Linked DNA regions of Homo sapiens: region 2 is reported to be linked to region 1. The links are microRNA targets in miRTarBase. Many come from high-throughput screens and were not tested one by one. Region 1 holds a microRNA gene; the other region holds the end of a gene's coding sequence.
Evidence for each region. The annotated mature microRNA hsa-miR-6127 reads UGAGGGAGUGGGUGGGAGG and lies in region 1 at 1,623-1,641, opposite strand. An mRNA with a match to its seed (bases 2 to 7 or 8) in the 3' UTR can be bound and repressed. Matches are read on the target gene's strand: a 7mer-m8 pairs with bases 2 to 8, a 7mer-A1 pairs with bases 2 to 7 and ends in A, and an 8mer does both.

Region 2: miRTarBase lists CHTF8 as a target of hsa-miR-6127. Seed matches in the 3' UTR shown: 7mer-m8 at 2,519-2,525.

The regions. Positions count from the first base shown.
Region 1 is chr1:22,631,706-22,635,853 of GRCh38, forward strand. MIR6127 (microRNA 6127) reads right to left here and starts at 1,661; the gene lies at 1,553-1,661.
Region 2 is chr16:69,116,732-69,120,731 of GRCh38, reverse strand. CHTF8 (chromosome transmission fidelity factor 8) reads left to right here. Exons shown (of 4, transcript NM_001039690.5): 4 at 83-2,722. The coding sequence ends at 307. HAS3 (hyaluronan synthase 3) reads right to left here. Exons shown (of 4, transcript NM_001199280.2): 4 at 3,072-4,000. DERPC (DERPC proline and glycine rich nuclear protein) reads left to right here. Exons shown (of 3, transcript NM_001002847.4): 3 at 83-2,722. The coding sequence starts at 304. The coding sequence ends at 1,878. Among named protein-coding and RNA genes, the nearest start is that of HAS3, 13 kb to the right of the region's middle.

The DNA.
Region 1 (4,148 bases):
TCTAGGAGTCTGGGCTCTGGAGAAATGGAAGAATATGCCCTTCCTCTCCGCCTGAAGGTGTCCCTGTTGTGACATGCACAGGGCCATTGCTGACCCTTTTATTTCTCACACTAATGATATGCGCATTAGTATCGATGTCTTTTATTTCTTGGGAAGTGTTTATACTCTTGCAACAGCCTGATAAGTAAAATCATCCAACACTTGGAAATAAGGCAAATAGATAACCGGTGTCCTTTCAAAGTCAAATGAGAGCTGTATCTAACAAACCCTGCTAAGGGTCATCTGACACTCTAGGGGAATGTCACTTGGCTTGACTTATTATTTACTATTGATTAGAGCCCAGATTCAGTAAAGATAGCTGTTAACTGGTAGAAAACTGTTAAGTTGCAAATTATTTTTGTCTAGTAGAGATGCAAATGATTTCTTTTCAATAGAGAAGATAGCCCCAACATGATGATTTTATTGCCCTATAGAACACTAACCAGTTTTGTATCTAATTTAGCAATTTTATGAATATTCCAGAATTCTTGTTGTTTTAACTGACTCTCTCTGTCTCCATATATAGGTATACATATATATTTTTTTCCATATCCATTGAACTAGCTTTGTCACCCAGCTGGTTCCTCCATTAACAACCTACAAGAGGACACTGACACATTCCCACACTGTATTTCTATAGGAACTGGGTATTCAATATTTTGAAAACTAGACTTTGAGAAGCTTTTCACAGTATCTGATTTTTCCTCTTGCCAACTCTTGCCCCTGTCTGTGTGACCCGGGCAAGTCTTTTTTTGTCTCTGGTCCTTTGTGTCTTCAGAGTAAAATAGGGCACGCAGGGCTGGCGTTTCTGCCTCGGGCATGTCATGTTTCTAACTCCTCTGGCAGGCAAGCAGGGCTGACGCAATGCAGTCAAAGAAGATGGATACTGGGCCGGGCGCGGTGGCTCACACCTGTAATCCTAGCACTTTGGGAGGCCGAGATGGGCAGATCACCTGAGGTCAGGGGTTTGAGACCAGCCTGGGCAACATGGCAAAACCCCGTCCCTACTAAAAATACAAAAATTAGCCGGGCGTGGTGGTGCACACACGCCTGTAATCCCAGCTACTTGGAAGGCTGAGGCAGGAGAATCTCTTGAACCCAGGAGGCAGAGGTTGCAGTGAGCTGAGATCGAGCCACTGCACTCCAGCCTGGGCAACAAAGTGAGACTGTCTCAAAAAAAAAAAAAAAAAAAGAAGAAGAAGAAGAAGAAGAAGATGGATACTGGGCTGGGCGCGGTGGCTCACGCCTGTAATCCCAGCACTTTGGGAGGCCGAGATGGACAGATCACCTGAGGTCAGGAGTTTGAGACCAGCCTGGGCAACATGGCAAAACCCCGTCTCTACTAAAAATACAAAAATTAGCTGGGCATGGTGGTGCATGCGTGCCTGTAATCCCAGCTACTTGGAAGGCTGAGGCAGGAGAATCTCTTGAACCCAGGAGGCAGAGGTTGCAGTGAGCTGAGATCCAGCCACTACACTCCCACCTGGGCAAAAAAATGAGACTCTGTCTCAAAAGAAGAAGAAGGAGGAGGAGGAGGAGGAGACTGGAAGGGATGTTAGAGGCCATTTGGGGCAGCCTTCCCACCTCCCACCCACTCCCTCATCTTGGTAGATGGAGAAAGTGGGGTTCAGAAAGATGAGATAACTTGCCCAGGGTCACACTGTGAGTTAGGTATGGGCTGAGCAGATGAGATTCCAGCTCCACGAACTTTCTGAATCCAGGGAGCATGGGAGGGGCTGTCAGGGGGAGCTCTGGGCCCCCACCCTTCAAGCCAGTATCCCCATTTTTATCTGTTTGACATACATCAGATGCCACACAAGATTGCAAATGAAAAAGAAGTCCCCAAAGCTCAAAAACCCTGGCTCTAGACCATCCTTCATCTGCCCACTTCAACAGCCTTCCCTTATCTCCTCCCTCCTCCTCCTCTTTTCCTCCTCCTGCCTCTGGCAAAATTTTCAGAAAACAAACAAACAAACAAAAACATGCTCATGAGAAGAAGCAGACAGATGTGGTCAGCCCAGGCCTGAACACATTGGTCTCCAGTCTGGGAGAGACAGAGCCTCTCTATCTAAAGAAAAGCATTCTCAGGGTCCAAGCTGACAATGATGCAGTGTGCCGTGCTGACAGGTAATGAGCATCCCATCAGTTAAGGTGAGTAAGGCTAGATGATCTGTTCAAACACTAGCAGCAATTGTCTCTAGATGGTAGAATTCACAGGCTTTTGTTGCTGGGTTTTGTTTTTTGTTTTTTTTTGAGATGGTGTTACAGGATCTTTGGGGTGTCATTTTCTGGCCGGAAACCTCTGTGGCTGGTGGCACCTTTGCCCAAGTTTTGCTCAGGCCCACTGGGCTTGTTTCACTCACTCCTCCTGGCAGGCAGCACTCAGCTCACATTACCAGCCTGGGTTCCACATCTGCCCAGGGCAAGTCAGGCATGGAACAGTGAAGGGTGTGTGAGTGAACATGGGGTCTGGCCACTGCACACAGTCAGACATGCCGGCTGCTGCAGCGGGGTGAGCAGCTCCAGGTGCCAGCATGGGCGCCAGCTCTCTGAGAGGTTGTGGCTAGACCAAGTACACCACAAGCAGCTTCCACAGCTGGCACCGGGGAACACGGTGGCACCCAGAAGCTTCGAGATGCCAGGAACCACAGGGCCCCGAAAAGGGAGTCACAGCTCCAGCTTGGGGAGCTCCCAGGTCTGGGTTCCCCAGAGGGCCGCAGCTCTTCTTTCCTTCCCTTCACCTGCATCATGGCAAGCAAGGGGCATGTTTCAGCCTTGTTTGTGTTACAGCTCTTTCAGCCCCACCATTTGATGGGTCCCAAGTTCTTATCCTGCAACCAGGAAGAATGAGGTATGCAGACAAGTGGGGAGTGAGCAAGACGAAGAGGAGCTTTACTGAGCGATAGAACAGCTCAGCCTCCTGCAGAGCCTCCCTCAGGGGGCAGCTCCTTTCCACAGCCAGGGTGTCCTGATGAGTGTTCAGCTGCTAGCAGAGAGGAGACCCTGGAATGGGAAGCTCCTCTCTGCAGGCAGGTCATCCTGTCGACTTTCCAGCTCTCAGAAGAGGGAAGACCCTGGAATGGGAAGCTCCTTTCTGCAGGCAAGTTGTTCTGCCATCTCTGCAGCTCTCAGCAGAGAGGAGGCCCTGGAGCGGGTAGCTCCTCTCGGCAGCTGGTCATCCAATGTCTGCCCAGCTCTGGCTGAGCCTGAAGCTTTCATGAGCCTCAGAGAGGAGGAAGTGCATACTGATTGGTCCATGGGTGGCTATAGGCAAGCCCAGAAAATACACCATAAGTTCCCACTCTGGTGTGTGGGACTGGCAGCCTGGCCCCCAGCCTTGAGGCCCTCCCTGGCTTGAAGGTAGGGCCTCACCAGGGACCCATCCCCTTCCACCCAGGAGCCTGTCTGTCTCCTGCTGCTGTTCATGGTGCCCAGGCTGTTCATGCCAAGGAGCGTCTGCAGGCCAGTGCCGAGCTGCCCTCAGTTTCCCCTTGGCTTTCCTTCCATGCTAGTCAGTGCCCAAAGTCCAGAGGGGGCCAAGGCAGCAGGGGTCTAGTGTGTCAGCACTGCCCCAAGCATGCCCACACCCAGCCAGGCTGCGACAGCACCCAGGCTCAGCACCAACTTTGCTCTAAGATCAGAGTGGGCGCCAAGAGGAGGGAGAAGCCAGGCAGTGGGAGCAGACACTTCTGAGCCTGAAGGGTGGGGCGGGGGGCCTTCCCGGGCCCCCAAGATTGCAGGGATGCCTGGGTCCACAGCTGCAGTTTAGGCAGCTGCAGCTGCATGGGGGATGGCGGGGGCCCCCACCTGCTCCATGAAGCAGGATCAGCTGTGGTTTGGCAGCTGCAGTGGTTCCCAGGAGGGCGGGGTTCCCACTGTCCCCAGCTCCCACTGGCTACATGGAGCATGCAGCCCTGGCCGTGCCTCCCTGCTGCAGCCAGTGTGATGACAGCAGCCATTCCAGACGGCCCGCCATTGCCATCTCTTTTTTTTTTTTTTTTTTTTGAGATGGGGTCTTGTTCTGTCTCCCAGGCAGGAGTGCAGTGGTAAGATCAAAGCTCACTGCAGCCTCAACCTCCTGGGCTCTAGCAATCCTCCCAGCTCAGCCT
Region 2 (4,000 bases), not on the chromosome of region 1:
TGCCAAGAGCAGCTTTAGGAGGCGCCTGAGTGTTATGGCCTTGCCCCGGAACCTCAGGAATCTCGTTCTTGTTCTGCCAAAGGGAATCCCTGTGCTGATCGTGGGGCATCATATCCTGTATGGGAAAATCATCCACCTGGAGAAACCTTTTGCAGTCCTTGTCAAACACACTCCTGGGGATCAGGACTGTGATGAGCTTGGCCGCGAGACTGGCACCCGGTACCTGGTGACAGCACTCATCAAAGACAAGATCCTTTTCAAAACCCGCCCCAAGCCCATTATCACCAGCGTCCCCAAGAAAGTATGAAAGAACCTCGGATTTTCCCTAGAGAGCGGCCAACTCCTTGGACTCGTGCTCCGCTGCCACCTCGAGGACGGCTCGACGGTTCCCTGGGACCACAGGGGGGTCCTGTTCTGAACACAGGCCACCCACTGGGTGTGAACTCGGATCCCTTCCTTATGGCGGCCGGTTCTCTTGGTGGAAATCTGACCCCATTTCCAAGGAACCCATCTCCTTTTCCAGCTTCATCAGGCTCATTGGCTTCAAATCCAGCACCTTTCCCGGCTGGTGCTCGTGACCCAAGTATGGCTTCTTTTCCAAGAGGGATGAATCCCACTGGCACAGGTGCAGTTTCTTTCCCAAGGCCTGGTGGCCTCTTGGGGCCAGGCCCAGGCCCAGGCCCCACCCTAAACCCTAGGACAGGGGCTCTGCCAGGCCCAGGGCCTCTGTCTAACCCCAGGTTAGGGGGTCTCCCAGGACCAGGTCCTATGTCCAACCCAAGGGCAGGTGGTCTCCTGGGAGCAGGTCCTGACCCCAGAGGTGGTGGTCCCATGGGCCCTGGATCTGGACCTAACCTGAGAGCCGGTGTTCTGTTAACCTCTGGGAATGGTCCTCCCAATCCTAGGCCAGTTGGCCTGGGCCCAGGACCAAACCCCAATCTGAGATCAGGCTTTTTAGGGACAAACCCTGCCCCCAGGTCAGGTGTGTTTCCAGGCCCAGGCCTTGGGCCCAACCCAAGACCAAGTGGCCTGGGCCCAGGCCCTAATCTAGATGCCAGAGCAGGTGGCCTCTTGGGCACAGGATCTGGTCTTAACTTAAGAATGGCTGGACCTCAAGGCCTCGATCTTGCCCCCATTCTAAGAGCAGCAGGTCTTTTAGGAGCAAATTCAGCTTCTTTCTCACAGGCTTCTGGAAACATGGGCACAAGCCCATCCTCCATGGCAAGAGTACCTGGCCCCATGGGCCCAAACTCGGGTCCTAGCTCTCGGGGAATTGGCCTTCCAGGGCCAAATCCATCTCCCATGTCAAGGGCTCCTGGCCCCATAGGCCCTAATTCAGCTCATTTCTCAAGGCCAGTTGGCCCCATGGGGGTAAATGCCAATCCCTTTCCCAGGGGAGCAGGTTCATCTGCCTTTTCTCAGTCTTCTGGCACATTGGCATCAAACCCAGCTACCTTCCAAAGGTCCGCTGGCCTCCAGGGCTCAAATCCAACCATTTTCCCAAGAGCCTCTGGGCCACTTGGCCCCAACCCAGCTAACTTCCCAAGGGCCACTGGCCTGCAGGGTCCAAGTCCAACTACCTTCCCAAGGTCTACTGGCCCATTAGGCCCTGGTCAAGTTACTTTCCCCAGGCCAGCTGCCGGGCATCTGGGCCCTTCTCCAGCTGGCCCTGTGGGTATCAACCCAGCTCCTTTCACAAGGCCAACTGGGACCCTGGGTCTCAACCCAGCTTCCTTTCCAAGGATGAATGGCCCTGCAGGCAAGAGTTTCGTCCCATTTCCTAGAGTGGGGAGCCTCCCTGGCACAAACCCAGCTGCTTTCCCCAGACCAGGGGGTCCAATGGCTGCAATGTACCCAAATGGAATGTTGCCCCCTTAAACACCATTTTCCCTCCAGGACCACCTTGGTTTCTAGGCACTGTGGTTCTTGGCAGGGGCTGTCTTAGGTAAAAGGGTAGTTGTGGAGCTACAGTCTGAAGAACATAGCTTGGGCTCAAGTTCAAATGAGCCATCTTTTTCCTTTGCGTTTTTCTTGACTGAAGGTGAGATGTTATTTGTGGCATGTGAACTGTGGCAGGTGGGAATAATCCTGCCCTTGAGAGAAAGGATCTCCAGCCTCCCAGAAGCCTGCTGTGCTTTCGTCCCACAGCTTTCTGCCCATTGTTTCTTACTAGTTTCTTGAATTGTTCTTGTGGACTTTTCCTCAGGGATACATTGGCCTGCAGGTCCCAGTTCACATGTAGTCCCCTGCTCACCATTGGAGAATCAGCTCACTGCTCTCTAGAAACGTGGCGTTGGTGAACGGACCATGCTTCCGTAGCTCTGACCTGGGCAGCTTGGACCTGGTCATCCTCTACTGCCATACCTTTCCCTGGGGGCTTGAACACAGAACAGGGAGATGGACAACCACTTCAAAGAAAGACCCACCGAATGCAGTTTCTGCTTGACTGACTGGGCCTGCAGCTCCCTTCTCCTGGGACTTAGAGGTGGCCAGATTTAAGGCCCCTCTACTCATCCAACTCCCTCTTCACTGGTACTCCCAATCAATCAAAGAACCTCAAAATTTAAACTGATGTGGATGGGAATATGGGAATTAGGGTGGGGGTGGGGGATGAAGGGAAGAAATCACTGTGCTTTGTTCGGCCTGGTGTGCAAGGATGGTTGGTGGTTTTCCTGCATTGTATCTTTTCTTACTGTTTCTTTAATAAATGGGATGAGAGGGCTGCTGGTGTCACTGTGTTTTGTTACCTGTTTCATAGGGAAGGAAGTTTCCTCTGCTTTTCATTGTTTCAGCTTGGCTACAGTCTTACATCATGTCGGCTAAAATGCTTTTGCTCCAAGAGGAAGCAAGCTTTGGTTTTTAGTCTTAGCAAGGGCCCATTCATCTGCCAGTTAGTTATTTCACCAAAGACCCTCTACACTAAAAGTTAAGCCCCCATGGGTGTAGTTACCAGGATGGACATATTGCCCAGGTCTTGAGTCCCACCTGACTAAACTTTCTATTTTAAGTCCCTCTTTGGAAACTGGAATAAAGAGCTAGCTTTCATTAAATACAAAGTAGTAGTTTCGAGATAACCGGCATATGTGAGAATCTTTATTTTGACAAATAAGTGCAGTATAAAAAACTTGACCTGAAAATTAAAAAAAAAAAAAAAAGCAGGTAAAAATAAATATGTTTACAAATTATTGTAGAAACAATACAAAAGAGGATTTGAATTCTCAATGAGGAAAAACCAAAATGCGTCCAATTGTATAAAGGCTCTTCCCTTGCAAGAAACGGGGATAAAGCTGAAGACCCAGTTTGGTTTTGCTGCTGAAAAATGTACAAAATAACTTAGAAAAACCAGTCGAGGTCAAACGTTGTGAGCCCACTACCTGTACCTGCCTGTTTTTGATTTGAGGAAAGTTGACGACCACAGTGCAAGGCAGAGCTGATGGTAGGACAGCCAGGAGAGCCTGTCATCCTACATTAATCTTCAAGTAAATGCTGAAGAAAAACAAGCCCTTAGCGAAGTCTGAACTCTGCACTTGGCTGACCGGATTTCCTCCATTCTAATGCTCAAAATAGTTTAACTTCTTGGCCAGCAGAACGATTGCCTGGATCAGCTGCCTTAGCAAATGCCTGCTGCCTTCCAGCCTTCATGGGTTGGGTCTGATGTCAACCAGCAGTCTTACCAGAAACTCGAGGTCTGTGTGATGTGGCAACTGTTAGCTACACCTGGAAAACCCTTGAGTTCGTGGGAGATGAAGGAAAGCACCAGGGTTTGCCCATCTGTGGCTCAGAGCACACCTTGCGTCTTTGTAGGAAGCACTTGGTACACTAGAGGCTTGCCCTCTTGTCTGCTGTCCACCTTAGTGCTGGTTCTGCACGGGTTAGCTGGCCCCTCTGAGAAAGGACATTTGGAGGGCAAGCAAGCAACCCTTAAGTCAAAGGCTTAGTCAGGATCCCAGGTTTTAAACTCAAAACGCTGAGAACAGCCTGGATTGCAAGTCACTGGAAA